Homo sapiens: one gene and its partners. The protein of the gene in region 2 purifies or fractionates together with the protein of the main gene of each other region. This does not show direct contact. Each region holds a gene or a part of one and is shown on either strand. Other genes may lie near its edges. The genes, in order: AP1M1, AP1S2, AP2B1 and AP1B1.

Evidence for each region.
Region 1: the proteins of AP1S2 (region 2) and AP1M1 fractionate together in Homo sapiens (co-fractionation; 7 studies listed by BioGRID and IntAct, with this or other methods). This does not show direct contact.
Region 3: the proteins of AP1S2 (region 2) and AP2B1 purify together in Homo sapiens (affinity purification with mass spectrometry; 4 studies listed by BioGRID and IntAct, with this or other methods). This does not show direct contact.
Region 4: the proteins of AP1S2 (region 2) and AP1B1 purify together in Homo sapiens (affinity purification with mass spectrometry; 6 studies listed by BioGRID and IntAct, with this or other methods). This does not show direct contact.

What each region holds. Positions count from the first base shown.
Region 1 is NC_000019.10:16,221,884-16,228,912, forward strand, and holds part of AP1M1 (AP-1 complex subunit mu-1), read left to right. Parts: intron 1-4,537; coding exon 4,538-4,664; intron 4,665-5,664; coding exon 5,665-5,807; intron 5,808-6,253; coding exon 6,254-6,325; intron 6,326-6,886; coding exon 6,887-7,029. UniProt on the Homo sapiens protein: Subunit of clathrin-associated adaptor protein complex 1 that plays a role in protein sorting in the trans-Golgi network (TGN) and endosomes.
Region 2 is NC_000023.11:15,851,814-15,859,711, reverse strand, and holds the start of AP1S2 (AP-1 complex subunit sigma-2), read left to right. Parts: upstream 1-4,898; 5' UTR 4,899-5,024; intron 5,025-7,187; coding exon 7,188-7,366; intron 7,367-7,898. UniProt on the Homo sapiens protein: Subunit of clathrin-associated adaptor protein complex 1 that plays a role in protein sorting in the late-Golgi/trans-Golgi network (TGN) and/or endosomes.
Region 3 is NC_000017.11:35,583,218-35,590,339, forward strand, and holds the start of AP2B1 (AP-2 complex subunit beta), read left to right. Parts: upstream 1-4,104; 5' UTR 4,105-4,211; exon of another isoform or gene 4,212-4,446; intron 4,447-7,122. UniProt on the Homo sapiens protein: Component of the adaptor protein complex 2 (AP-2). Adaptor protein complexes function in protein transport via transport vesicles in different membrane traffic pathways.
Region 4 is NC_000022.11:29,336,571-29,343,570, reverse strand, and holds part of AP1B1 (AP-1 complex subunit beta-1), read left to right. Parts: intron 1-1,187; coding exon 1,188-1,286; intron 1,287-1,810; coding exon 1,811-2,070; intron 2,071-2,713; coding exon 2,714-2,915; intron 2,916-3,796; coding exon 3,797-3,817; intron 3,818-4,437; coding exon 4,438-4,581; intron 4,582-7,000. UniProt on the Homo sapiens protein: Subunit of clathrin-associated adaptor protein complex 1 that plays a role in protein sorting in the late-Golgi/trans-Golgi network (TGN) and/or endosomes.

The DNA of each region.
Region 1 (7,029 bases), on a different chromosome or scaffold from region 2:
CCATGTCGATCAGGCTGGTCTCAAGCTCCCAACCTCAGGTGATCCACCTGCCTCAGCCTCCCAAAGTGCTGGGATTACAGGCATGAGCCACCGCACCCAGCCCTCAGATATGTTTTTGTCATTTTACTCTTCCTTCAGGACTCCAGTGACATGAAAGACCTTTGGTTATTATATCATGTGTCCCTGAGGCTGCTTATTTTATTCTATCTTTTCTTCTCTCTGTTAGATTGGATAATTTACATTGAACTGCCTTTAAGTTCACAGGTCCTTTGGCCCTTTCCTGTTTATCTCCATTCTGTTATTATTATTATTACTATTATTATTATTATTTTTTTTTTTTTTGAGATAGGTTCCCACTCTGTCATCCAGGCTGGAGAGCCATGGAGCAAGCATGGCTCACTGTAGCCCCAACCTCCTGGGCTCAAGCGATCCTTCTGCTTCAGCCTCCTGAGTAGCTGGGACTACAGGTGTGCACCACCAAGCCTGGCTAATTTTTAAAAAAAAATTTTTGTAGAGATGAGGGTCTCTCTGTGTTGCCCTGGCTGATCTAGAACTCCTGGGGCAAGTGATCTTCCCACCTCAGCCTCCCAAAGTGCTGGGATTACAGGCATGAGCCACTGTACCTGGCCTCCATTCTGCTATTAAGTCCATTGAGCAAGTTGTTTATTTCAGTTACTATATTTTTAAAAATTTTCCATTTGATTCTTCTCTTTTTGTTTGTTTTTGTTTTTGTTTTTGTTTTGAGACAGGGTCTTACTCTGTTGCCCAGGCTGGAGTATAGTGGTGCAGTTATAGCTCACTGCAGCCTCAACCTCGTGTGTTCAAGTGATCTTCCCATCTGAGTGTGCTGAGTAGCTGAGACCACAGGCACGCACCACCATGCCTGGCTAATTTTTTTTTATTTTTTATTTTGTAGAGACCAGGACTTGCTGTGTTGCCCAGGCTAGTCTCGAACTCCTGGTTGATTCTTCTTTATCATCTGTTTCTTTGCTGAGACTTTCTATTTTAACATTTGTTGCAAGCATTTGCAATTTTAAAAATAGCTGTTTAAAGTCTTCATCAGATAATCCCAACATCTGTGAAGTGTTGACAGTGGTTGATTGGGTTTTCCAGGCAAGTTGACATTTTCGTGGTTGTTTGTATGCTGAGTAATTTTGGATTGCATCCTGGACTTTTTGAGCATTATGTGGTGATACTCTAGGTCTTATTTAAGCTATATGGGAAATATTGATATTTTTGTTTTAGCCAACAGCCAATCTTACTTTCAGGCCACAAGTTCCAATCCCCAACCTGTAGGCCATGAGCATCACGTCAGTTTTTAAAGCCCCCGTGCCATTTCCTGGTCAGATCTCCTGGGCGTGCACTGCCCAGTGGTCATTCTGGGACCCGAGTGGTTAGTTCAGTTCTCAAACTCTTTCGTAAGTCAAACTATGGTATATGCACAGGATTCACAGATGCTCGATTCTAGAGAGTTCTGGAGACATAAACCACTTCATGGGGTGACTTTCCTGAGCTTCTGGCTCTGTGCTGTCTACCTGGTACTTTTCTGATTCCTTGCGGTTTACTGTTGTACACGTCTGCCATTGGGCCCACTTCCCAGCCCACATGGAGAGAGGACAGAGAGAGAAAAGGACAACGGTTGCCCCACCCCCTCGGAACAGTAGCTGGCACCACAGGGCCTGGGGCATGAGGAACAGGGGAGATGGGGGGCTTCTGTGTTTTCCAGGAGAGTCAGGAGTTCCTCTTCTGGCCCCAGAGCCAGGCCTGGAGGCTCTGCTGAGCTCTCGTGTGCTCTGTGGTGCACACTTCTGCTTCCAGATTGCTGCTGCACTTTCTCGTGGGGGGCGGTGGGAACACTCTGCATTCGTGGCTCTTCCCTGGTCCACCTGCTGCTGTCTTCAGTCTTCCGGCAGCTGCCAAGCCTCCTGCCCAGGTTTCAGAGCTGTAGTCAGTGGCAGGGGAAGGGGCGCCAGCCGACCTGCCTCACCAGCCGCTTGCTTTCTTTTGTGTTCACGCTGGCCTCATCCCTGCGGTGTGGGTGGACTGTATGGGCTCAGCCAATCCAGTCATGCAGGTCACTCAGGTCCCGTTTCTGACGGCCACTGGCAGTGCAGCATTGAGCACGCTTGCTCAGCCCCAGACGTGTGCACTTGGGTGTCTCCGTGACCTGGGCCAGGATTTCTGGAGGACTGAGGCTGCAGACATGGAATTGCCAAGGAGAGTGCTGCCCAGAAAGACTGTCTCGCGCACTCCGTGCAGACCTCTTCGCTTTCTTACTTTCCGGGACGGGACAGTGGCCTCGCTAACCACATTCCCCTCTCCCCTGGGGACTCTTGTCTGATTGTTTATTGAGCCGAAAACAGGGTCCATCTGGGTGCTGTGGGGTGCAAAGGCAAGTCCCAGGGGGCAGCTTAGAGAGAGTCGAGCAGGAAAGCGCTAGGGCTGCGGGGGTCCCCGCCACAGTGCGCTGCTGCATGTGGCTCCGCCCGGAAGGATCCCACTCCTCCAAACAGGTCAGCACAAGGGCAGCTGTCAGGATGCCACCTTCCTAAGTGGCTTGCAGAGCTGGTGGCTGGGTCAACATTTGCCTCCAGATGCGATCATCTGAGTGCAGCCTGGTACTTACACAGCCGGGCCCTGAGCAAGCATCCCTTCAGCACCCGCCCTGGGAAGGGCACCGGCTCTGCGTGGCTGGTCACACCTCAGCTGAGAAGGTTCTGATTGCTGCCCGCAGGGCCGAGATCAGCCTCGTGGGCTGGGCAGCTTTTCAGCTCCACTCCCTGGGCCTGCTCTCGCGGCATTCACGACCTCATGTGTTCAGTTACAGCTGGCTGCCAGGGCCAGTCCCAACTCCCTGAGGGGGAGGCAGCACCCAAGGGGAATTAGGGGCCGTCACAGTGGAGTGGAGGGCCCTCCGAGAAAGAGGCAGGCAAAATCCCAATGCTCGGGCTCCTGGAGCCCCGGCCAGTGAGGGTCCCGAGCTCCTGAGCCTCCGCTTGCCCACTGAGCACCTCCTGCCACACACGCTGTTTCTGGTGCTGGACACGGCAGCGCGCAGCCCCACGTGGCTTCCCCCAGCAGGGAGAGAGAGAGAGAGACAAGCAGGCAGACGCAGGGAAGCTGTTGTGCACCATGGGATCAGGGAGCCGCTTGCGAGATGAGGACAGGACAGCACGAGGAGGTGAGGCTGGGGAAGGTGACAGAACCGGAGCCCTTGGGGCCATGTCCGGTTCCCTGCCCCTCCCAGGGCTGTCATTTGCTTGGCACCTCAGTTTTCCCAATTCCCTCAGAGGCGGCAAGCTGGTGAGGGGCTTTTGTTTGTCTACCCAGTGCTTTTTGGACATCATGCATAAGACTGCACAGACTCTCCTGCCACTCTGCAGACAGGAAATGCAGGCCCTGCACATGTTAGCCTGGCTGGAGCCAGCATCTGGGCCCAGGTATCCAAGTCGGTGGCCTTTGGCCCACTTGCTGGTGTGAGCATGGCCTCGTGCAGCATAGCAGTGTGCAGTGGTGGCCAGGGCTGCAGCCCCAGCGATTCTTCTGCCAGTCACTCTGTGCCCTCAGCACGGGGCCTCTGATCTGTGCCTGTTTCCTCACCTCTAAAATGGATGCAAGAAGAGATGCTCCAGCATCTTGGCTCACGCAGGACAGGCTAGGGGGTGCAGGACCGTCGCCCCGGTGTGGATTTTCAGTTGCACTTTCAGATGCATCTCGGCATGCGCAGTGGGTTACAGCCCCTCAGGTCATCTCCCCACAGTCCCTGCCCCAGAGGTTGTCGAGGCGTGTGTGGAGCAATGCCTGGCGCAGTGGAAATGCTGTCAGTGTTAGCCACTGTGACTGGATTTAAGTTGATTATTTTGGATCAAGTGTTATCACACTTCAGGGTGGCCCTGAGAAGCAAGAAGGGGTCAGGACTCAGGAAGCACCATCTCTCATAAGCCCTGGGGGGTGAGGGGCCAGTGGCCTCCCTGGGAGGCCAAGAGGAGAAACAGCTTTCAAGAAAAGCAAGTCTGGCCTGGTTCAAGAGACCCCAGCCCAGCCCAGCCCATCGGCTGAGCAGGGACCACAGGGTCCTGGCCCAGGTCCAGCCGAGCTCATGGACTCTCAAAGCTGACTCAGCGTGGGGACCAGCTGCCGGGCCGGCCCGGAGCATTCAGGGGGCTCCTGGGAGGGAGGGACTGGTACCTGATAGAGAACCCTCAGAGGGGGCTCCAGGCACGCATCATCAGGTCCCAGTGTGGCCTGAGGCCTAGAGGGCAGGACCCACAGTGTCCACCTCATGTCCACAGGGCCTCGGCATGAAGGCTGGAGGGGTGAGCCTGGGGACCCTCAGCCAGGCGTGGGTTGGTGTGGGTTAGGGGTAGACCTTAGCCACAGCTGGGACTCTCCCAGCTCAGGGGATGCCCAGGAGAGGGATGGGCTTGGAGGTGAGAAGGGCGTTGAGAGTGGGGTGGCCAGAGGGTCACATGATGTGGTAGGAGGCAGTGGCTGGTGAGTTGGGGACCTCCCCTCACGCCCACACCGCCACCCCCAGGTCAGCGCCAACGGCAATGTCCTGCGCAGCGAGATCGTGGGCTCCATCAAGATGCGAGTCTTCCTCTCGGGCATGCCCGAGCTGCGCCTGGGCCTCAACGACAAGGTCCTCTTTGACAACACGGGCCGTGAGTACCCTTGCCAAGGGCCCTGCCCATGAGGATGGCCTCACCAGGCACACACATTACAGCCTAGGGCAGGGTTGGGCCAGGCGGAGGAACGAGCTGGTTTCAAGCACTTGGTTGAGCAGCACTTCACACTGCTTGAGACAGCTGTGTAGAGTATTCATCCTTCCCTGGACATAGAAGGTGCAGGGGAGTGAAGATCCTCCAGTCCAGCTGGGAGGCCCCCGTCACCCGGCCTCACACGCCAGGTCCTGCACCCTGCCCTGCTCTGCCTGGGGCACTGGGGCCTAGGCTAAGGCCTTGCTCTCTCCCTCCCAGGCCAGGTTTCTCCCCTCACCTTGGGCCCTAGGTGTGGGCCGTGTGAAGGCCACGCATGGTGATTCTCGCTCCCGCCGCCTGGCCTCTAACACTTCCCACAGCAGGGCGGGGGCAGAGGGGCCCAGGGCCTGGTTTTGTGAACTGTGCCTCCCACTCAGCTGTCACAGGCCACTGGAAGAGGGTGCAGTGGCTGGGCATGCCCCCGTTCCTAGCCCGGTGAGGGCTTCTCGGGCATCAGTCTATCAGGGCAGCTCCCCGCCTGGGGCTGGGCAGGGCCCCACCCACATAGCCCTCAGTGAGGTGGCAAACCAAGGTAGGACCCAGGACCCCGTGGATGCCAGGGCCTGAGCCCTTGGGGAGCCCCGAGCCATCCCCCAGCCAAGTCCACTGATCAATCATTCAGTGAACGTGTCCTGAGCAGGTCCCCTGGCTGGGCCCTGGGATGGCCGCTGGGGACTCAGCATGAACCAGACCCACCAGCCCTGCCCCTGGGGACCCCAGGGGTGTGAGGAGTGATGGGGCAGTTGTCTTGGGACCCAGCCCCCTTGGTGTTTGTGGCCCAGGCTGCTCTCAGTGCGTGGACTGGGGGCCCTGCTCTGCCGGGGTGGGTTGCAGGTGGTAGGAGTACTGCTGAGATAGTGACCCGGAGGGCCCAGATCTGTCCTACCCTCACCCCTGACCCCAGGCGGCAAAAGCAAATCCGTGGAGCTGGAGGATGTGAAGTTCCACCAGTGTGTGCGGCTATCACGCTTCGAGAATGACCGCACCATCTCCTTCATCCCACCCGACGGCGAGTTCGAGCTCATGTCCTACCGTCTCAACACCCACGTGAGTGCGCCACCCTGGGGCTGGGCTGTCGGCAGACTCCTCCTCCCCTTCACCTCCAGGAGGTGAAGCCCAGGCAGGCGCCAGGGCCAGCCCCACCCCACGCTCCATGAGCTGCCTGGCTCTGCAGAGATGGAGTCTGAGGACTTGGGACTCCGAGCTTTCTGAGGGGCACAGACCCCTTTGGCCACCACCACCCCTTTCCCAGGCAGCCCCCAGAGCAGGCCCTGGTCATGTTTTCTGCATTTGCCCCAAGGCCTCCCCGGTAGCTCCCGGCTACCTCGGCCTGTCTGCCCTGGCCCTCCCTGACGCTGGCTGTACGCTCCCTGCAGGGCTCTGGGCCCACACCTGGGCAGATGGTCCCTTGCCCTGGGCCTTGGTTTCCCCTCTGAAATGGGCCTTTGTCAAACAAGGCCAGGTGTGAGCACCCTCTTTGCCCTCCTTGGCAGGTCAAGCCTTTGATATGGATCGAGTCGGTGATCGAGAAGCACTCCCACAGCCGCATCGAGTACATGATCAAGGTGCGTGGGCCGAGGCCACCCACTGAGGGCCTTCTGGTGTCTCTGGCCCGTCCCAGGAGCCTAACCGAGGGCTGGGGGTGCCGTAGGGCTGCCATCCGTGCACCCTCACTGTGGCCTCAGATGCAGGAGTGACCTGACACTGAGGGGACACCGCCTGGGGCCTGCTCCTAGATGGTGCCACTTGTGGGGAGGGGCCTGTAGCCAGGCATCCAGGACACTCCCAGAGGTGTTGCCCCCAGGTGGAGCACCTCTGCCCCTCAGCGACCCTGTCCAGCGCAGCCTGGCCCTGGGACATAGACATTGTCCTAGGAGGGCAGGGCAGAGGGAGGGATGAGGAGCCTTGGAAGCTGAGCAGACAGGAGGATGAAGATGAAACTCCTGAAATTAGGTCTTGGGAGAGTCTCGAGGGCAGGAGAAGGGGTGGGTAGTGCCTGGAGAAGTGGGGCCAGGGGCGGGGCTAGGGAGGATCCCCCGGGCCAGGCTGAGGGGCATGTGTCCTGGAGAGGCTGGCCAGCTCACCTTGGCCTCCATAACCCCGGGCCGCATTGGCCTGGCCTGCAGGCCAAAAGCCAGTTCAAGCGGCGGTCAACAGCCAACAACGTGGAGATCCACATTCCCGTGCCCAATGATGCCGACTCACCCAAGTTCAAGACGACGGTGGGGAGCGTTAAGTGGGTCCCCGAGAACAGCGAGATCGTGTGGTC
Region 2 (7,898 bases):
AGGTGAATATAACTGGGAATATTACTCTTCTAATGTTCTCGGGCTTAATGAGGTCAGCGATTAAAAAAATATTCAGATCTCAAGTTTCCTTTAGACCATGAAAATTATATCACAACTTTCTAGTTGGATATCATAGCTTTTTGTGGTATAGAGCAATGGTTCTCAAAGTGTGGTTCCCAGACCAGCAGCATCAGCATCACCTGGAAACTTGTTAGTAATGCAATTCTCAGGCCTCATCTCAGACCCCCTGAATCAGAAACTATGGGAATGAGGCCCAGCAACCTGTATTTTCACAAGTCCTCTAAAAGAATATTCTAGAACCACTGGTTTAGCGATTTGGAGTTGAGTTAGATCATTGTTGAAGCATTTCACTTCAAGGATCAAATCAAGACATTATTTGAAATCGTTTGTTTAAAACATACAGAATCTCTCTCTTATATTGCTGTGAATTAAGAGTGACATAGAAATTCATCGAACGAAAATATTGCGAAGAGCCCTGGGAGGTCATGAGAGCACATAGTTTTCAAACGTGTTGGTTACAGAAATCTAAGGTTCTATGAAGCATCTCTAGGGGTCTCCTAAAAGAAAATGTTCATACGTTTGGTTGATGACTATCCTTTGACCATCCAGGGTTTGTCTCTAAAAGACTAGAAATTCTGTGTCAGAAGAAATGGAGCTTTAGGACCAAGTCAATATCTTATTTGTCTTTATATCTTCATTACCTTCCAGAGTGCCCCAGCATAAAGTAGATACCTAACAAACATTTACAATGTATGTATGGATGGAATAGGCATCTCATGGATTCAAGTGCTTAAGTAACTTTTACTAATATTCTGGGGTCATTTTTTGAAAATCAGTTTGGATAGTTTATTCTAGTTGCTATTAAAGAATACTGACTGCTTTATGTATGCCTCCAGTCTTTTAAGCAGTTAAGGATTTTATCTAGCAGATATTAAGAATAATGGCTCCAACTCTGAGAAAGAAAGAGAGGGAGAGAGAGGGAGAGGGAGGAGAGAGAGAGAAAGAGAGGGAGAGAGAGAGAGAAACTTATATGAAGATAATGTTTGTTCCATTTCTTGAAATGTCTATAAAAATATGCTACTGCATGTTAATATTTTCAGTGACTAACCCAGGATTTCTTCCTGAACCTTGGCACTAGTGACATTTGGGGCTGGATCATTCTTTGCTATGGGATCTCTCTTGTATGTTGCAGGATGCTGGGCAGCATCCCTGGTCTCTGCCCACTAGATGCTGGCAGCATCACCTACTACTCCTAGTTGTGACAACCAAAATGTCTCCAGACACTGACAAGTGTCCCCTGGGAGGCAAAAGTGCCCAGGCTGAGAATCACTGCTCTATCCTAATGTTCATAGGGCAGTAGTAATTTTCCTGCATTTTATTCAAAGCTATGGAAACAGGCTTCGAGAAAGAGCATATGTTCCACATTTCTCTTTAGCTCATTGTTGAGGACTTTGGCAGTGACAGCTCTATCTATTTTGAAATGATTTGGTTCACAAATCCTCATTATTTTAGGCCATTTTTCTCCCTGGAACAACTTTATCTTTGGAGATGCAAATTCACAAACTCTAAACATCTTTTTTACACTTTCTGTGATCTACAAGGCTTCAGCACTGAATTCCATTATTGGGCATTTTTATTTAATAATTTCTAAATAATCTATAGACTGGCTAAAGGAACTCTGTATAAGTCCATAATACAGAGCTAGCAACTAATGGAATGGTTTTTATCTACCTCCTTACAATATTTTAAAAAATTATTTAAGAAAAAACCTAAGTAAAATGTAATAATACCCTTTATTACATCCTACTGCAAGATTCTGTCCATGGAAAGAAATTCACCATTGCTTCTGGGATTTACTTCCTGGTATCGAAAGAATATGCTAATAATTCTAGTTCGTGATTTATTTTAGATGTTATCTATTTTCTTCCCTTTAGCACATGAGGATTTAGCATTATTTCAACCTTCCCTCACTTCTGCTCCTCCATAATATCAATATATGACAATTTTTCTTTAAATCATCAGTGTTTAAATGATGAGCTGACAGTGTATCCTGACATCCTTATCGACATCCTCATGTAAATGTTCCCTCTCTTATTTTCCACGTGGGTATGTGTTTTAAATAGTCCCTTTAAAAAAAATTAATGGTATTTTGAGACAGTGAGAGGATAAAAGTATATGGCCATCACACATTTAATAGGAAACTAAAATTATTTTTGAAAACTTTGGAAAGATTACATAAAAAGTCTCAAAATTTTATCGTTAGAAGGTAAAGATTTCTATTTTCCCCTCACCTCTTACATTTAGCATAAATGACAGTGAAGCATTTTTTTCAAATTTAAGAAACAAGTATAAAATCTGATTTTTAGTTTTTCATGAAACGAATTTTGTATATAATTCTTGTATCAATATTAACACCAATAAATCAGGACCATCTAGAAAACAAAAACAGGATTAAAAAAGATAACCAATTGACATGACGGATGAAGAAGACACTAGGTGAGAAGAAACATGTATATAACAAAGCCTACAATTGGGAAATTGTGGGAATCAAAGTCAAGCAGTTAATTACTAACAAAGATGGCAACCATGTTTCTTTTGTCTTTCACAGTGAATGCATAATTAGCACTTAATACTAAGACTAGGGAATAAACCATCTATAATCTATTGAAAAAGACCATCTGCTTCTATAAATTTTGTTCTCATACACTTGCCAAAAGAAGAGAACATATTAACAAAATAATGGGCCCTGCACTGTTAATTGCTAGGTTGTTTGCAGTTGTGCTGTTGCTATTAGAATTTAATAAGCCATTCCTTCTGCTAAATTAATAAGCAGCCAAGATTATGTAATAGCTGCTTTCAGCTGCTAATTATTTTTCCCACAATTCCTTCCCCTCCCTACCCCTACCCCCACCTTTTTTTGGCTAGGAGCAGGAAAGGAGACTGCCAGTATGTCATCAGCAAGTCTCCCGTCCTCATTTTCAGAGCAACATTAGGAGCATAATCAGAGTTTAAACTTGGAAGTGGCTATCTCAGGAACCTTCAGGATATAAGTGTTTTGTACAGAAAAAGAGAAAAGCAGCATTTGGATTCAGAGGGCGAGTTTTCATTGTGTAGCATTAGAGCTATCTTTTAACTGGTTAATGGCATCTGTTTCTTGTAGTAAGAGAGAAATGGGACATTCGAAAGCACCTTTGGGGCATGACTAGGTAGGGAGAAATCTGGTGGGGGCGAGGGGGACCTAAAGAACTACAGAAAGCCAGCTCTGTGCCGTGTGTCGTCCCCTTTCTTTAATATTCCAGTATACATTAATCATACATGTTAGTAGGAAACTTTCCAAGCAGCACAGTAGTGCTTGAAAAGGGGAAGTATTACACATTTCTTTTTGTTTTGTCATACAAAAGCATTTTTTAAAAGCCCCCAAAACTACTGTCTTAGTTTCATAGATACTATAATGTACACAAAAAGAATATAATCCCTAATAAAGGATTCCTTTACATTGATTACATTTAGCTTCGTGAAAATTTTAGCATTTCTTTTTTTACTTTAGGCCATTAAAAAAATTCTGGCGACTATACTTAGGAACCTCTGCAAAAGGGGCATGGCCCAACAAAAGCAATTTTCTCGCTTCCTTTGTAAGAACCTAGGTGACTCGGGTAATGAATAGCATTTCGATATGGGAAACCCGTGGCTCTTCAAGGAAGGTCACCTAATCCCGTGGGACTCCCCTTTCCTTATCTGTAAATGACTAGATGATTCATCCATTCTATCATTCAGAAAATTATGAACATCCATTATGCCCAGGCATTACGCTCAGCATTACAGCTCTTAACAAATTTATCATTTTATAGTCTTTATCAGTCAACTCACATTTATTAGTTGTTATATACCAGGCTGTGAACTAGATTGAGATGCAAAATGAATACAATTTAAGGTGTGCTAAATAAAGGCTAACGGGCATGTGGGTGAAAGAGGGAATCGCTCTTACAGGGTTTTAGGGTGAGGCTTCATAGATGTGACATTTGGGAGCAAGGACATGCCAGGCACAGCAAGTCGTCGGCAGTGCTAAACTGGAACCCAGGCGGCTGGTGGGGCGACCCAGTGTGAAGGAAGCGGGATCTCGAAGGTGAGGTGCTGTCCGGGCTTTTCAGCCGAACGGACGGTAACTCATCCAGTCCGCAGCACCGAGGATGGGCGAGGCGAGCCCAGGGAACAGACTCCCGCGAAGCTCGGGGCGGAAGGTGTCTGGGCTAGGGCTGGAGCAGTGCAATGGGAAGGAGAGGGCGGATTCCGGACAATTTTGAGGCAGAATGATAGCAAAAGGCCCGTGAATGCGTGACGAGCTCCACAGAAGAGCTGACTTGTTTTTCCAGAGTTGCAGCACTCCCTCGTCTCCTCCCACCCTCCTCGTCAGCCGTCACACTTCACACTTCCTCTCTGGGGACACAGAGAATCATTAGAGCTCGAACGTGGCTCTTCGCTGTCCGGAACTTCCCTGCCCCGCACCACCCGCTAGGCTAAGGACGCTGCAGAATCCCGTCCTCCTATCATTAAACAAGCAGGACAGCCGCCCGCGCGCGTCCCGGAGGCACCTGCAAGAGCGCGCGGGCGCGCGGGCGCTCGGGCCCGGCAAACGCCGCTTCCGGGTCACGTGGCCCGGCTTCCGGTTCGCACCTCCCCTCAGCGAAGAAACCTCCAATCGGCTGCCTTGGACTCAGCGGTTACCCGCGCTGCCTCCGGTGCCGCTGGCGACCGCTGAGCCGCTTCCCGCGCGTCGCCTAGCCCGCCCCTCAGCTCGCCGCAGCCCCGGCTCCTCCCTCGTCCGGCCCCCGGGGCGGGGTCTGTCAGCTTGCCCTCCCCTCTCCGCCTAAGCCTGCCCTATGCCAGCCGGGTGTCCTCCCCACAGCACCACGGCTTCTCTTCCTCAGCACGGCGACAGGGGCTTCCCCTTCGCCGCCGCCGCCGCCGCCGGCCAAGCTCCGCCGCGCCCGCGGCCCGCGGCCGCCGTAAGTCCCTGGGGGCGAAAGGGGGCGCCGGGGATGGGGGAGAGGGGGAGGGAGGACTGGGCGCGCCCCCCGCCACCCCGCGCGCGCCCCGACGACCCCACCCCGAGCCTGCCCGGCCCGCCACTGGGTCGCCGCGCCCGCAACTCACTTCTCTCCGTGTCCGCGCCCTCCGCACCACTCCGCGCCGCGCCCGGGGATGTGGGGGCCAGTCCCGGGCTCCGCGACAGCCTCGCGGCACCTGTGGTTCGGGAATCGCCTCAAGTTTTGCGGGGCGCTTTCGGGAGGGGCCGGGGGCGGTGGCGGCCGAGGACTCTTGGCGCCCCCTGCGCGGCGGCGGATGCCATTGTCTGCTCCGCTCCTTGCCTGTCACCTCTCCCGGGCTTGGTCAGTGATGGAGTGTGGCCACGGGAGTGGGGGGGAGGCACCGGCGACGGCCGGACCCGAGGAACGCTGGCCCCGAGCCCGCGCCGCGGCTGAGCCCATTGTTTTTAATGCCAGTCTCGAGGAATTGTGGTGCCCTGTGATTTGCGGCAAAATCAAAGCGTTGGTTTTTAACACGAGGGAAGGAATACTCGTGCTTTGCAACCGGGTTTCGTCCCATGTTAGGACATAATTTATTTTAAGGAGAATACATTGTTTTTTCGTCCTGCAAAGTGGTAGGGCGGATACAGGACCCTGCTCCAGACAGCCTTGAGCCCATACTCTTCGCAGGCAAACCCTCACCCTTTCTGGTCACCAAGATCTAGGAATACGAGGTCCATTCTTTTCCAAGTTCTGGTAACGGGTTTGCAGTAAATGCCCAGTTGATGCTTCACTTCCTGCCCCCTTCGAATGCCGCTATCTTCAGGACTTGCACGGGAGGCACTTTGGTATCACCTAATAATGTCCTTATATTTTGTTCCCCTGACGCATTTTAAGTGAGGTAATAAGACCATTTTAACTTTACTAAAGTTGAATTGCCACGTCATACATTTCTAGATATCTTGTTGATACCTTTTTGGGTGGTTACAAAAAGCGACGATAATTTCTTACCGAAATTTAGGGCCCATTTTTATTCTACATTGGTTCTGTAAATTTCCCCTCCCCGTGTTCAAATTCAAGATGGTGTGGTGAATCTTGAGAATCATGCTTGAATCTTATTTGCAGTAACGCTGTTAAAGGAACTTAACAGTGATTAAAAGAAAAAAGGATACCTATGTGAATTCTGCCTTTAAATTACCTTTGTAGAAACAATACTTCTGTTTGCAGTTGAGATGACCAATTGGATTACAAAAAGCTTGGCGTTAAAAATGAAACATGCAGACTAATCAACACATTTGCAGATCACAAATAAATACATACAAATTAGTTTAAGTATAAAACACACTAGAATTCAGCATCCATTCCATCTGTAGATACTATTTTTTATTTTAAATGAAGTATTTCATGTAATGTTTCAATGCTGAATCTTATTTAATAAGTGTAAATCTTATTGTGGCCTTTTAAACGTTTGTTTTCTTTTTCATAATACATTAACTCAGTTCTAGATTTTGTACATATTTAAGTTGGAATGCTTTAAAAGTCAGATGAAAACATACTTTTTTATTAATGAAAATTTGTATTTATGGGATTTTTCAGTTAATATTTTGGATCATTCTGTTTTGCTTAAAATATGCCATCATAAACTGAGGAGAACATTCCAAGACATAAGCTACTGTCTGCAAGTAATTCACCCTGGAACTAGAACGGCCTCAGGATGAAAAATAGCAGGTCTTCTGTTTCTTTCAAAAGTACCCAAACCAGATGATGTCTACCATTCTCTTTTGATGCATATAGAGAGTGCGCAATGTATAGCACAGGTAGAAAATAGTTTCTTAAATTGAAAGAGTGATCTTTATTTTTCTTCAAAAATTTCACTTCAGCTTATTACCCATTTTTCTTTTTTCTCCTGCACACTCCCCTTCAAACTTAATGTGGAACAAGGTGGGATTGGAAGGTTTGCATCTAGAGGAAGATCTGTCCAAAAGAATTTCTTGCTATTTTAATTGGCATAGAAATATTGATGGCTACTAATCATTTGTCATGTAAATGCCCCATCCCCCAAAACTTCTCTGTGAAACACATAATCTTAACTTTATTGATTCAAAGTATTACATGTAATCTTGATTTTATTTATCTTAACAGATGCAGTTTATGTTGCTTTTTAGTCGTCAGGGAAAGCTTCGACTGCAAAAATGGTATGTCCCACTATCAGACAAAGAGAAGAAAAAGATCACAAGAGAACTTGTTCAGACCGTTTTAGCACGGAAACCTAAAATGTGCAGCTTCCTTGAGTGGCGAGATCTGAAGATTGTTTACAAAAGGTATAATTTTTGTTTGTCAGAAAGGTGAAATAGAATCAAATGTTAGGTCATTTAGGAAATTGCAGACTTCAGTGATGACATTTATAAATAACGATTAATAAAGATTTAGATGAAATAGGTTTAAGGTAAAGCTTTGTGTTTTTAAAATAACTAGTGTTTTGATTGATAATTACTGAGGCTGAAATGATAAAGGCAGGGAAATCCTTTGAAAACTAGTTATATAATTAAAGGCATAAATGATTATTCATGCTTAATCATCTTTATAGAAGAGTTTAATGAATTCATTTCATTGCAGGGGAAAGTAGGGTCAGTATTTTAAATTGTGTGAGTAATTCTCTGAATTGAGACAAGTACAGATAGAGTCTAATTCTTTTTCCCCGAAAATCTATAAAGTAATGACTAATATTTGACATGCCTTTTATCTGATTTTTAGAATCTTACTCACGTGTAAATACCTTGACTATGTAGACTATTTCAATCACATAGATGTTTTAAAAACTTTGTGTATACATGAGATGTGTTTGTAAGTAGT
Region 3 (7,122 bases), on a different chromosome or scaffold from region 2:
AACCTCCTCCTCTCAGGTTCAAGTAATTCTCCTGCCTCAGCCTCCCTAGTACCTGAGACTACAGGCATGTGCCACCATGCCTGGCTAATTTTTGTATTTTTAGTAGAGTCAGGGTTTTACCATGTTGGCCAGGCTGGGCTCAAAGTCCTGACCTCAGGTGATCCACCTGCCTTGGCCTCCCAAAGTGCTGTGATCACAGGCGTGAGCCACCACGGCCAGCCTCTTGAAGATTTTTCTAATGACATCTTTACGAAATCTACCTCTGTCTGCTAGCAGTTGTACCTTGAACGAGTTTTTTCTCTCTCTCTCTCTCTCTCTCTCTCTCTCTCTCTCTCTCTTTCTTTTTAGAGACGGTCTCACTCTGTCACCCAGGCTGGAGTGCAGTGGCATGATCATGGCTCACTACAGCCTCAAACTCTTGGGCTCAAGTGATCCTCCCACCTCAGCCTCCCAAAGTGCTGGGATCATAGGTGTAAACTGCTGTGCCCAACTCTGTAACCAGGTTTTTCTAACCTCCTCCATTCCTTATGATTTAACCCAGCAGTATAGTTATCGATTTGGTGATGAAATTTGGGGAATAGGTCTAGGCTAGAGATAAGAGATTTTGGAGCCATATATGTAAGAAAGATAATTAAAACCATGGTATGCTAAAGGGTTAGTGTAGAGAAAATGTATGAGTATAGAACTAAACTTGAAAAAATTGGCTGAGTTTGGTGGCTCATGCCTATAATCCCAGCATTTGGGGAGGCCAAGGCAGGAGGATCACTTGAGCCCAGGAGTTGCAGACCAGCCTGGGCAACATGGCAAGACCCCCTCTCTACAAAAAAAGAAAATTAGCTAGGCGTGGTGACACATGCCTGTAGTCGCAGCTACTTGGGAGGCTAGGTAGGAGGATTGCTTGAGCCTGGGAGGTCAAGGCTGCAGTGAATTGTAATGGCACCACTGCACTCCAGCCTGGGCAACAGTGCAACACCCTGCCTCAAGAAAGAAAAAATCCTTGCCACTGTTTTCCTCAGATACCATTTCTGCTTTCTTTGGTCATACTTTCTTATGAGTTATCTGCAACTCCTGTTTTTATTTCCTCATTTCTAATCCATCCTCAAACATCTGCAGTATGACTTTTGCCTTCATATCTCTACTGATTTCTCAGCAATAACATCAAATACCTCCATGTTACTAAATCCTGTAGACACTTTTTAGCCCTTCTCCTGTCTATGGCAACTAATATTGTTGATCACTTATTTATGCGTTTAGTCAACATATATTAATTTGTGTGTGTGTGTGTGATGGGGCTAGCCTCATGTGTGCAAGAGTGAACAGATTGGTATAGTCCCTACTTTCATGAAACTCTGAAAACATCCTAAAATATACTATTCTGCTTTTCCTCCTACCTCTCTGACTACTCCTTCTCAGTCCTCTTTGCATTCTTGGGTTTATCTGTTTCTACCCCAAGCACTCACTCTCCACATTCTTCATGAATAATGTTCATGCCCACAGATTGAATTATCATCTGTATGCTCACAGTTCACAAATTTAACTCCAGATCATTCCTTATCTTCAGACACATATAATCAAGTACCTCTTGGGTAGAGATCTTCACTCTAACCTAACGTATAAAATGAACTCATCACCTCCCTATTCTTCCCCAAACTTCTGCCATTTCTTATATTTTCCTATTTTCAGTGACTAGTACCACCGTTCCTCCCTTGCCCTAACCTAAAACATAAGCCTTATCAGCCCTAGTGTCAGACTTCCTGGGTTCAAATCTTAATTCTACCTTTGTGTGTGTGTATGTGTGTGTGCGTGTCTGTGTGTGTGACTGCAAGCTCCGCCTTCCAGGTTCATGCCATTCTCCTGCCTCAGCCTCCTGAATAGCTGGGACTATAGGCGCCCGCCACCACGCCCTGCTACTTTTTTTTTGTATTTTTAGTAGAGATGAGGTTTCACCATGTTAGCCAGGATGGTCTCGATCTCCTGACCTCGTGATCTGCCCGCCTCAGCCTCCCAAAGTGTTGGGATTACAGGCGTGAGCCACCGCGCCCAGCCATCTTAATTCTACCTTTTAACTTCTCTGTATCTCTTAAAATAGAGGAAGTAATAGTACCTACTTGGTTATCAGGTGGTGCGGATGTAAAAATGTACTTAGCAGAGTAACTGACATAAAATCATAATAAATATCAACAGTTATTTGTTTAAACCACCATCATCGTGTGGCTGGATCATGTCAACAGTTTCCTGAGTGGTCTCCCATTAGATTATGAGCCCGTGATGGTCCCAAAAGGTGAAAAGAAGGGAGATTGGTCCATACTTTCACCCAAAAGTGGAAGAGAATGAAGTTGGAAAAGCTTTCGGATTGATGCTATATTTTGAAAATAGTATTGGTTCATTTTTCCTTAAAATATATGCATTTTTCAGAGAAAGGAATGGAAAATAAAACAAATATAAAGAAGATAACATTTGTAATCAGCACCCAGAGGGAACCACTAATAGGTATATATACTCCTCTGGATTTAGAGTTTTGTATCTTTTTTTTTTTCTTATTTCAAAGCATTTTTCTGTATCATATTTTTCAACAATATGATTTAAAAGGCACATCCCAACATAGAAATAAATACATGTTCATTGTAGAACACTTTGAAAAATACAGAAAAATATTAGGAAGAAAAATAAAACTCTCACTATCCTGCAATAACCACTTTTAACGTTCTGCTGAATATCCAAGCTTTTTTTTTTTTTTTTTCTTTTGAGATGAGTCTGGCTTTGTTACTCAGGCTGGAGTGCAGTGGCGAGATCTGGGCTCATTGCAACCTCTACCTCCTGGGATCAAGCCATTCTCCTGCCTCAGCCGCCTGAGTAGCCGGGATTATAGGCGTGTGCCACCACCCCCAGCTAATTTTTGTTTTTTCAGTAGAGACAGGGTTTCACCACATTGGCCAGGCTGGTCTCAAACTCCCGACATCAGGTGATCCACCCACCTCAGCCTCCTAAAGGGCTGGGATTGCAGGTGTAAGCCACCACGCCTGGCCTATCCTAGCCTTTTTTTTCTATACATATATAGTCATACTGTATACTGTATTGTTTGGTGTCCTTTTTTTGCTTAACACTTTATGAATTTTCTGTCATAAAATATTCTATAACATTATGCAGCTATCTGATTTACCATAACTGTTTGCATTCTCTCACCTTATACCTGGCTTTCTAATTTCCCCTATTCCCCTATTTTAATAACAGAGGAAATAATAATACATGAGTATGTTATACAAAATTTTAATGTACTTCTGATCACTTTTTTAAGAATGAAGTTTTAAAATACTGAAACACTTTTTGACTCACAGAGTTCATAGGCAAAATGTGAGAAAAATCATCACTTTGCTCTCCATCCTTCCTTACACCCTGAAATTAACCTTAGGGACAGCTAGTTCATTTAACATCATCAATCTTGTTCTCCAGTTCCAGGTCCTGGAATCTAGCTCTTAGTGTCCGAAAGAAACTTACTTTTGTGTAAGCACACCTATTATATACTAGGCACTTTACCTAATTTATCTGGTTTAAACTTCACATGCCCGAGAGAGATACTATCATTGTCTTCATTTCACAGATAAGAAGGTTGATGAGACATTAACTGTCTCAGTCACATTCAGGGTAGGGATTCAAACTCACATCCAATGCCTCCTCAACCTCTTTTACGTGCAGCACTATCCTCTAGCCCCACTGCCCGTATATAGGCCTGGGCTATATCACCATTGTCCGCCCTTGAGCCTGGAAGGAAAATGAGCTGAGGGGTTTTGTTTTTTCAGAAAGGAACAGGATATTTCATCATCTCTATGTTTACGTTTTTCAGAGAATTTCTGTGCGAGGAAACAAATCCATTGTCAGCTTTTTAAAATATATCCCTTTGGAGTAGCCACTTAACATCCTCTGAGGCCCAGATGGGCTAGCTTGCCGGGACCAAAGGAAATCTTTGGGTCTGGAAGGCGACAAGAGATCACAGGCTTTCTAGGTCTACCGCGCACCCCGATGACGTCACGCGGCGACGTTCTCTGACGTCAGAGTTTCCTGCCCACCATCTTTGTCCCTGGCAAAGTGGGTTTTGCGCAGTGGCTTAGACCTAGAAAAGAATCGTGACGGGCAGGAAACCATTACACCACCACCTGGGCTGTGCTCTCCGGCTCCCGCCGCCACCCCCGCCCTCGCCTTCGCCTCCGCCTCCGGTGAGTTCAGGGCGGTTGCCTTTAGGGTGTGTCCCTAATTGACGGGGTCGGGGACGGAGAGAAGGGTAACACCAGGCTGGGTCGGAGACCGGCGGAGGCGAGGAAATCCTAAGAGCGTGACCGTTGATGATGCAGGGAACCGTCGGGTGTGACCATTGAGAGGGAAAAGGTTGGAGAAAGGGTCTCTACCATGATGCCTGTGGTGCGGTGAGGGAATCCTCGGGTGTGGCAGCAGGTAGTTGGGGGCAGGAGGGGAAGATGTGTTTCGGAATTGAGGGTTTAGGGGGACCAGAGGCCAGGGGTGTGGCTGATAGAGCCTGGAGGCCGTGGGGGGAACCGTCTTTCTTCCCCGCTCGGCGTCGTTCACTGAGAGGCTGAGACGTGTCCAGCAAGCCAAAGGGAAAAGGGATTCCCTCAAAGGTTTGCTCATTGATGGGCGAACGTCGTCTCTCGGGTAACTTGAGGGTAAGAGACAACCTCTTCCCTGCTCCGTAATGGAGGAGCATATCGCTAGAATCTTGACCACCTGGGGAAAGAAGAGGCATTCCTTACTCTTGGAGGAAGGAAAGAGTAACCTCCAGAATTGACCCGATGTAAGAGAGGGGGAAGCAAATGGGGGCAAATCTTAACCCAGCATCTTTTTTTTTTTTTTCTTTTTCTGGGCTCTGCAGTAATGGTCTGGTTTGGGAAAGGCTGTAGATTAAGCTGAAAGTAAAGAAACTGGAACGTCCTGTTATTTCCTTATCATTTGAATCCAAATCATTTGTTCATGCTGCTTGTTTTCAAGAGTAGTCTTCTATTGGAGGGGTGGGGTGGGGGGGGACAGGCCTTTATTGAACTCACGCGGATGCTTCATTAAACTTTTGACTTTTATTTTATTTTATTTTTGTATTTTTAGTGACAGGGTCTTACTGTGTAGCCCAGTCTGGTCTCGAACTCCTGGGCCCAAGCGATCCTCCCGCTTCGGCCTCCTAAAGTTTTGTGATTACAGGCGTGAGCCAGCGCGCCCAGCCAAACTTGACTTTTGAGAAGAAAAAATGTTTTGAAAACTGCCAAAGACTTATCATAACCATTGTGGTTTAAAAGAAAGTAAATGCATTAAGCTTAGAAAGGCAGAATGACTAAGAAAGAAGGTGGTCTCAATGAGAATCAATTTAAATGATTAGTTACCTTCCTTGTATACTTCAATTGCTTAGCCTCAGGGTACACTTACAAAGTAGTAATAGAAAGCAGCAGATGAAGGAGGTGCAGCTCTATAAGAAAACGTGTTAAGACATTCCAGTGATGACTAAGCGTGCTGGTAAGGTGAGAACTGTTTGCAGTATCTTAGCCGTTGAAACTTTCAAGGAAGCAGAAAGGATGATGTATAATGCAAACATCCTCACTAAAAGCTGGGTGGTAAAATCAATATAAATCTAATATTCTGACTGTGTATGAAGAAACTCAAGGAAGTCCAGTTCTTTCATTCTTTCTTTCCTTAAAAGATCCATATTTTGAAATACTAACTTTTTAGGCACAGGTTTGAACGAAGCTGAGCAAGGAATATATTAAATAGGGCACGTTCTCCTTTCTCTTGTCCTTTCTTTCCTTCTAGCCTTAGGTTTTCCAGAGTTTAATGTTATTTTGGTTAAGAATTAGATGTAAAACTTTTGAACTCCTTTGCTTCGTTATAATATTAAGAAGCTACTTTGTAGTCTGTTATGTTTAAATAGAAATCACAGGTGATTTTAGCTTTTGTGTCTCATAATTTCTTATGAGCAAGGTAATACCTGATGATGCTATTGTCTTTGCATTATTACTGAATATTTGATTAGAAATGAATTTGGCACCTCTCACCTTTATAATAAAAGATTACTGGAATGACATTTCTGCTTTATAATTTGGTTAACTTTGGCCAGTTTTTCACTATGAGCACTGAGCTTTGTAAAGTCCCACTTTGTGAAAAGAAGGGTTTAGTGACTTTACAAACTAATTTAGCTTCCCAGAGAGCCATTTGAATTAAGACCCTATTAATTTTTTTCTGACCTTATTCTACCCAAGGTATTAATCTTATTTTGCTGCTCAGTTTCTCTTTTGGGGAACTGGAGGGAGATATAGGAGAGGAGGGACTTTGACAACCTATATTTGGTAGAAACTAGGTTATGTTAAATCTGGATATATAGTCCTGTGCAGGGAGGCCTTCTCCGAAATGCAGTGACATCACACTCTGGTCGAGGGCAAGTAAGAGTGATTATGTGCTTTGACTCTGGCAGCTTTGTTGTTTAACAGTGGCCTTAGGCCATACCGTAAATCCTCAGAACAGCCGTTACTTGTCTGGTTTGATCTGGTAGAAAGGTAGTGTGAGTTCAAATTCCATCATGGCTTTGCTTATTTCTCTGGCTCTTCTGAAGGAACATTTTCTCCCCCCATAGGAGCAGCTTGATTTTTGAGGCACTTCAGCAAATATTAGATTTTTTTTTTCTTTAGCTCTATTTTGTTTACTTTTTCTGTAACTTCTTTTTTTTTTTTTTTTTTTGAGACGGAGTCTCACTCTTTCGCCCAGGCTGGAGTGCAGTGGCGCGATCTCGGCTCACTGCAAGCTCTGCCTCCTGGGTTCACACCATTCTCCTGTCTCAGCTTCCCGAGTAGCTGGGACTACAGGCGCCCGCCACACGCCTGGCTAATTTTTTGTATTTTTAGTAGAGACAGGGTTTCACCGTGTTAGCCAGGATGGTCTCGATCTCCTGACCTTGTGATCCGCCCGCCTCCCAAAGTGCTGGGATTACAGGCGTGAGCCACCGCGACCGGCTGTAACTTCTAATGAAGACGTCAGTTTTTGCCATCCTGTATTTTGGAGACTCTGGCTATGTCCATATCTAGCATGTGATTAAGTGTATCTCTCATTATATGAGGTGAGAACTCATTATATGAG
Region 4 (7,000 bases), on a different chromosome or scaffold from region 2:
CTTCCCATTGGCTGCCCAGGCAGGGCTAGAGTCTGGAAGCCAGATGCTGGGCTGCCTCCTGCCTTGGAAACAGCCAGCCTACTGCTCATCTGCTGCTGGCCCCCATGTAACCAAATTGCAGACTCTGGTTCACCCCAGAATTGGAGGACCACGTGCCCTCCATTCTGCCTGCCTCTGTCAGCCTTCCCTGCACAAGTGCCCTCCTGCTGGGCAGGTGCCAGAGATGCCGTCAGCACGGCTGCTGCTGGGCTTCCTGCACTGCCACTCCTGCCCTCCTGCTGCAGACCTGTCCCTGGCACAGCCTATGGGCTCCCACTGCCCCTGACTCCGGGAGCATCAGGCTGCCCCCTTGTCCTAGGACTAGCAAAAATGAGACCGTGACTAAGGAAGGATTATGTGCAGAGACTTGTTCTCGCATAGATGTTTCTTCAGTCAGCAAGTATTTCTTAAGTGCCTGCTATACACCAGGCACTAGATTGGGCAGTAATTAGTGACACGACAGTAAGCAAGACAGACATCACTCCAGCCCACAGGGGGCTCACTGTACAGGATAGCCAGCAACTGGTGGCGCTGTGACGGGGTGGAAGAGGCTGCAGAAGCATGGGGGGTCTGGAGGTGGGGTTGGCATGAGATCTGAAGGGTGAGGAGGTGTTGGCCAGGATGAGGGCAGCTTTGGGTATGTCCAGGCATGTGGCAGGGGCCGGTGGAGGGCCACCAGGAATAGTTCCAACCCTCTGGTAGAAGCACAGGTCCTTGACGGCAGGCTCTGTGGGCCCTGCTGCCCCAGTCCCCTGGGCCTCCATGGGACTGTCGCCACTTGTTGACAGATGGTCCTGATAAGAAGCACTCCAGCCACACATGTGAGCTTCTCATAGTTCTGTGAATTCTAGAGCTCCAACAGGTTTCTAAAACCCTAGGGCTGGGCAGCGGCCCCTGGCCTACTTGGGTTTGCCAAATAGTCCAGTATTCAGCTCCTTCCTGAGTGAGTGATGCCGAGGTCTGGCTGCTCAGCGGCACCAACACTTGTGGCAGCCCTTTGCCTGTGTGCCGTGACAGCCCCAAACCTAGAATAGCTATGCTTGGCTTCCAGGGACTTTGAACACCCTATTCCTCTTCAAGCCTTTTTGTTCTCCCTCTATCCCCATGTGAGGCCCACACTTCCTCCTCGTCACCGCTGTTCCCTGCAGGTCCAGCTGCAGCTGCTGACAGCCATTGTGAAACTCTTTCTAAAGAAGCCAACAGAGACCCAGGAGCTGGTGCAGCAGGTCCTCAGTTTGGCCACTCAGGTGGGTGCCCCAACCTCCCCGCTGTGCCCAGCATAGCCCTCACTCAAGCAGGGGAACTTTTGTCCCAGGAACTAGACCTGGAAGCCAGGCCCGCTCCTAAGACAGGTATCTTGTGGGTGGGACTGGCTTCCAGCCCCAGAGTTACCCAAGCTCCCTGCCTTCAGGGTGCTTAGAACACAACACAAAGTGCAGTGAGGTCAAGTAGTGAAGTTGAGACAAACTAGACAGAGGAGGAGGGCCCATGGAAACCTGAGGGTGTGTGTTGGGGGCAGGAAGGGCAGGCCACAGAGGGCGGTTGGGAGTAGAGACAGGCATGGCCAGGCTGGAGTAGAGTACCATGGGGAATGAGCCCGGGGCCAGGGCATGGCCCTGTAGGTGGTATAGGGGCAGGCTCATGGGAGCACTCAGGACTGCTGTCCCCATTGGCCACCCCTGTGCCGCACCTGGCTCATGGCTGCAGGAAGGTCTCCTCCCTTCTCACCTGGCTACTCTGAGTTTCATGGGCTTCTCCTCACCCCCACAAGGACTCAGATAACCCAGACCTGCGGGACCGTGGCTACATCTACTGGCGCCTGCTGTCCACGGACCCGGTGGCAGCCAAGGAGGTGGTGTTGGCTGAGAAGCCACTCATCTCTGAAGAGACGGACCTCATCGAGCCCACACTGTTAGACGAGCTTATCTGCTACATCGGCACGCTGGCTTCCGTCTACCATAAGCCTCCCAGTGCCTTTGTGGAGGGGGGCCGGGGCGTCGTGCACAAGAGCCTGCCACCTCGCACGGCCTCGTGAGTGAGACTGGCCAGTCGGCCTGCGCCTTCACACTCTGCTTCCCCAGTTTAGCAGCACAGGCACTCAGGCCTGGCGTGTTGTCCCCCAGCAAGACCTGAGTCTGAGGAAAACTGACAACCTTTTATCAGCTATTTATTGTACACAAGGTATTTGCTAGATGACCTCATTCCAGCCTAACGACAGTGCTGAGAGCAAATGTCCCCATTCTTCAGGTGGGAACAAGAGACAAGGAGAGCTTGAGGGACTGGTCCAGGATCTCACAGCTAGCAGAGCTGGGACTCAGACCAGTTCTGTCTCATTCCAGATCCCTGTCTGCGCCTCCTCCTCTGTTGTTCCCAGGTGGTTGGTGTGGCCTGGTGGCACCGTCCTAGGGCACTGGCATCCAGTTTTCTTCTTAGCATGGGCTGAGGGCTAGAAGCAGGCGGCCCTCTCCCTTCACTCATCCTCACGGAGGACCTGAAAGATGGACCTGCTGTGGGAATGGGAATGGGGAAGAAGTGGGGCCGTGTGGACAGCCCTGTCGGGGACAGTGAGGAGACTCAGTGCCTGTCCTGGGGGACAGCTCTGCCTGGAGGCTGGGGTCTCTTTGACCTTCCTGAGACATCCTGATGCCTCCACCCTACTTCTGTGTCCCGGCAGGAGTGAGAGCGCAGAGAGCCCTGAGACAGCCCCTACTGGAGCACCTCCTGGGGAGCAGCCAGATGTCATCCCCGCCCAGGGCGACCTGCTGGGTGACCTCCTCAACCTGGACCTCGGCCCCCCAGTGAGCGGCCCACCCCTGGCCACCTCCTCGGTGCAGATGGGAGCTGTGGACCTTCTTGGCGGTGGCCTTGACAGCCTGGTATGTTGTGGGCCCCCTCTGGATGATGTTGATAATGATCCTCAGAGGAGCAGTCACTGAATGCCCCTCCATGCCAGGCACCAGCTGAGTGCCTCAGGTACATTATATAGAGTCCTTACCATTTACCCTTGGAGGTGATTGTGTAGCTCCCTACTTATGATGAGAAAACCAAGGTTTAGAGAGGCCAGGCAGCCTTCCCTCCGAGGTCGCACAGCCCCTGAGAGGCAGACAGGATTCCACTCCCTTGTTGAACCTTCGAGTCCCAGGAGACCCTGGGCAGGGAGGCGCATCCTAGCCCTTGCCCTGATCCTGGCATCACAGTCACCTTTGCCCTGTAAGGCTAGGGTGTTCCTGGCTTTGAGGAATCAGACTTGTGTCCACTTACCCTTATGCAGCGCCAGCTGGGAATAGCAGCCCATCCAGGCCTATTTGAGAGGGCATGGGAGGCCGGGGAGAGAGGGGAGTGGGAAGACAGTAGGGAGGGGAGTGGTGAGACTGACTTGGGTATCTCCCTGGGGCTTCCTCAGGCAACTGGCAGGACCATGTGTGGGGGCGCCTAAACCTCTTCATTTGGCTGTGCTCGGCTCAGGTCCGCACGGTGGCAGCACGGGGGCAGGACACTGGTGATCAGTGCTGCTAGGGTGAGGCAGGAAGGGCTGTGGTGCAGGACAGGTGTTGGGGTAAAGGTGTGGGGTAGTGCCTTTCATAGAGACAGGGTCTGGGCCTCTCGCCAGACCTCACACCACACTCCTCTCGGATGGAGCTACCGTTGACTAATCTCCCTCTTTCCCTTCTCTCTCTTGTTTCTCTGTCTTCCTTCCTGGCTTTTTCTCTCTGCATGTGGCTGCCTGTTCTCTTCACCTGCCTGCTTCTGCTTGGAGATGGGGGATGAGCCTGAAGGGGTATGGTTCAACCCTTGCGTCACCAAGCCTTCGTCCTTGCTCCTCCCGAAAGCGCTGGCCCAGCATCCCAAGGGGCGGGGGCGGGTGATGTCACAGCAGCCTCCACCTGCTGAGCCCCTGCCTTGGTCCAGCATCCTGGCAGCCTCTGTCTTGACCACCTGGCATCCGGCTGCCACTGGGCCCCATAGCCATGGATTCTTGCCCAGTCCTCACCACCCCATGACACGTCGCCTTGTCATCGCGGGGATTGCCAGCCCTCAGTCCCACAACCCTTCTCTGATGTCCTGGAGGGAGAGCACCCATCTGCGTAGCATGTCTCCACCCAGCCGTGTGTCTTGGGACCTCCTTTTATCCATAGGCTGAGCGTCAATTTGGGAGTGTCCCCAGCCCTTTCCCAGAGGTTACTCCTAAGGCTCAAGGCTTGCAGGGCACGGGAGGGCTCAGCCTCTCTTCTCCACCCACCTCTCTCTGTCTTGTTTCTGTAATTTAGAGTTGATATGGAGGCTGTCCTGCCCCCTGCCCCCAGTGTCTTCTAAAGAGCCAGGTGGCTCTACTCATTCCCAGACCCTGATGTCTTTGCCTCTTGACGCCCACCTCTGACTCTTTCCCTCCCTTTCCAGATTGGGGGCACCAACTTCGTGGCACCTCCAACAGCAGCAGTACCAGCCAATCTTGGAGCACCCATCGGCAGTGGCCTGAGTGACCTCTTTGACCTGACCAGTGGCGTGGGCACCCTGTCAGGATCATATGTGGCCCCCAAAGCAGTAAGTCACTTGTCTTCTGTCTTGGCGGGAGCAGAGAGAAGTTATGGAGACTGGCATGTGGGCTCCTTTAAATGGCCTCGGCTGTGGAATTGGCTCAGGCCAGCAGTGATGAGGGAAGCTGGGGGCCACAGGGGCACCGAGGAAGAGGAGCTAAGTCAAGCTTGGTGGGTACCTAGGAAGGCTTTCCAGAGGAGTCGCAGGACCTCAGTAGCTGAACAAAAGCGGATAGGGGCTCCAGACCAAGGGAACAGTCTGTGGTAAGGCCTGGAGGGAAGGGAGACCACGGCCTTTGTGAGGGAATCAGCAGAGGCCTGTCAGGTGGGAGCAGTAGTTCTCAGTGCCATCAGACTCAGCACCCCTTAGTCATCATAGACATTTTACATTGTCACCATTCCTCTCCTTAAATGCAATTGGTGGGCTGTGTAACCTACCTACACATAGCATTCCAAAAATACTCAGATGCTTTCACTGCATGGAGGAGACATAAAAGGGAGAGAATACAAGTGTATGTATCAATGTTATAAACGTCTGGGCACGCCTGCCCGCTCACCCCAGAAGACATGAAGTTGCCAGGTGTTTGCTGCAGGGCAAAGTCACTGTGACTGTGGCAACCACAGTCTGGGTGTTTGTAGCCTGGACCCCGTGAATGGTTTGGCCAGTGGTGCCATTTGTTTCTGAAGTGGTCACTGACTCCCAGTAAGGTTTGGAGTAAGATAAAGAACAGGCTTCCCTCGATTTTCCTGAGAATTGTGTTCCTGGAAGTCTCAGGATATGTTGAAACCATGCAGAAAATACTGGAAGGATGCAGGACAGTTGCTTGTTGTGGGGTGGTTGTCCCCATGGTAGGATGTCCAGCATCCCTGACTCCAGCCCACTACATGTTATGCCACCTGAAGATGCCCACAGATGCCCACTATGCCACCTAGGGCACACCCCCAAGACTCCTGGCTAGACTAGGGATCAGTGAAGGAGGAAGCTGGCAAGGCTGGCGGGCCAGGCTGAGCGTTTCTTCTTGATCCTGGCACAGCCGGAGCCATTGGAAAGTTTTAAGCAAAGAGATGAACCAGTCTGATTTGCACTTGAGAAAGATGGCTGCGTCTGCAGGGAAGGGGTGGGGCAGAAGCACCGGCCCCGGGGGATTCCGTGGCAGGGAGGAGGAGTGCTGGGGCAGCTGGACCACGGGGGCTCTTGTGGGTGGAAACAGCGGCCAGACTTGAGAGCTCCCTGGGAGGGAGGAGCCGGGGCTGAGGGAAGGAGAGTTGAGTTTGGGATGTGAGGACATGCGGGCCTGGCACTGAGGAGAGCTCAGTGTGGGCCATGTTGTCAGTGTCAAGGAAGCTGCCAGAGGGGACCAACCAGGCCTGATCCCCTCATCACACTCAGATCAGAAGTTGTGTTTGCCAGAGCTCCCCTCTCTCTTCTGAGGTCCCCACCCCAAAGCAGGATACAGTTGGCGGTCAGGGGCAGTGACAGCTCTGTCATGACTAGGGAGCCATGAGCCAGCACCTCCCCACCCCCTGAGCTGGCTTTCCCCACCATATGCCAGCTGCACCTGCAGTGGTGGTGACTGGAGCCCCTGGCAGGGTCTGGGCACTGAGAGGCCCACAGCAGACAGCAACTCGGACACTAGTAGCCGCACACTTCCTTGTAGGGACAGCACAGCATTCCACAGCCACCGCCAGCACGTCCTCCTCCCAGCAGCCCTTTGTGGCTCTTCCTCCTATTTCGTGGTTGAGAAATCCTAGTGCTTTTGCCTAAGGTCACATAGCTGGTGACAGAGTCTGGAAGTGAAAGCAAGTGACACTAAAGCCTCTGCTCCAGACCCCTATATGATGGTCCCCACAGAGCGTGAGAACCACCTGTGCACCTGCCTTCATGCGTGGGGTGTCAGGGCCAGCAGGGCCACGGGAACGTAGAATCGCGGCATAACGTACAGCATGTGCAGTTGACTTACTACCTGGATTAGCTGCACCAAGGCATGAGGCCAACTCGTACTCACCAGAAGCCCAATATCACAGGCATACAAAGCAGGACTAAGGGACAGAGAACAGCAAAGACTCCTGTAACCCTGTGGGTGCCAGCCCTTGCCAGGCACTGCAGAGCTGCCAGGAAAAATAAGCCTGGAGCTGGCCTTTGGCAAGCTGGCACTAGGCTTGTGTGTTCATCTTTTTTTTTTTTTTTTTTTGAGACAGAGTTTTGCTCTTGTCACACAGGCTGGAGTGCAATGGTGCGATCTCAGCTCACTGCAACCTGTGTCTCCGGGGTTCAAGCGATTCTTCTGCCTCAGCCTCCCGAAGTAGCTGGGATTACAGGCACCTGCCACCATGCCTAGCTAATTATTTGTATTTTTAGTAAAGACAGGATTTCACTATGTTGGCCAGGCTAGTCTTGAACTCGTGACCTCAGATGATCCACCTGC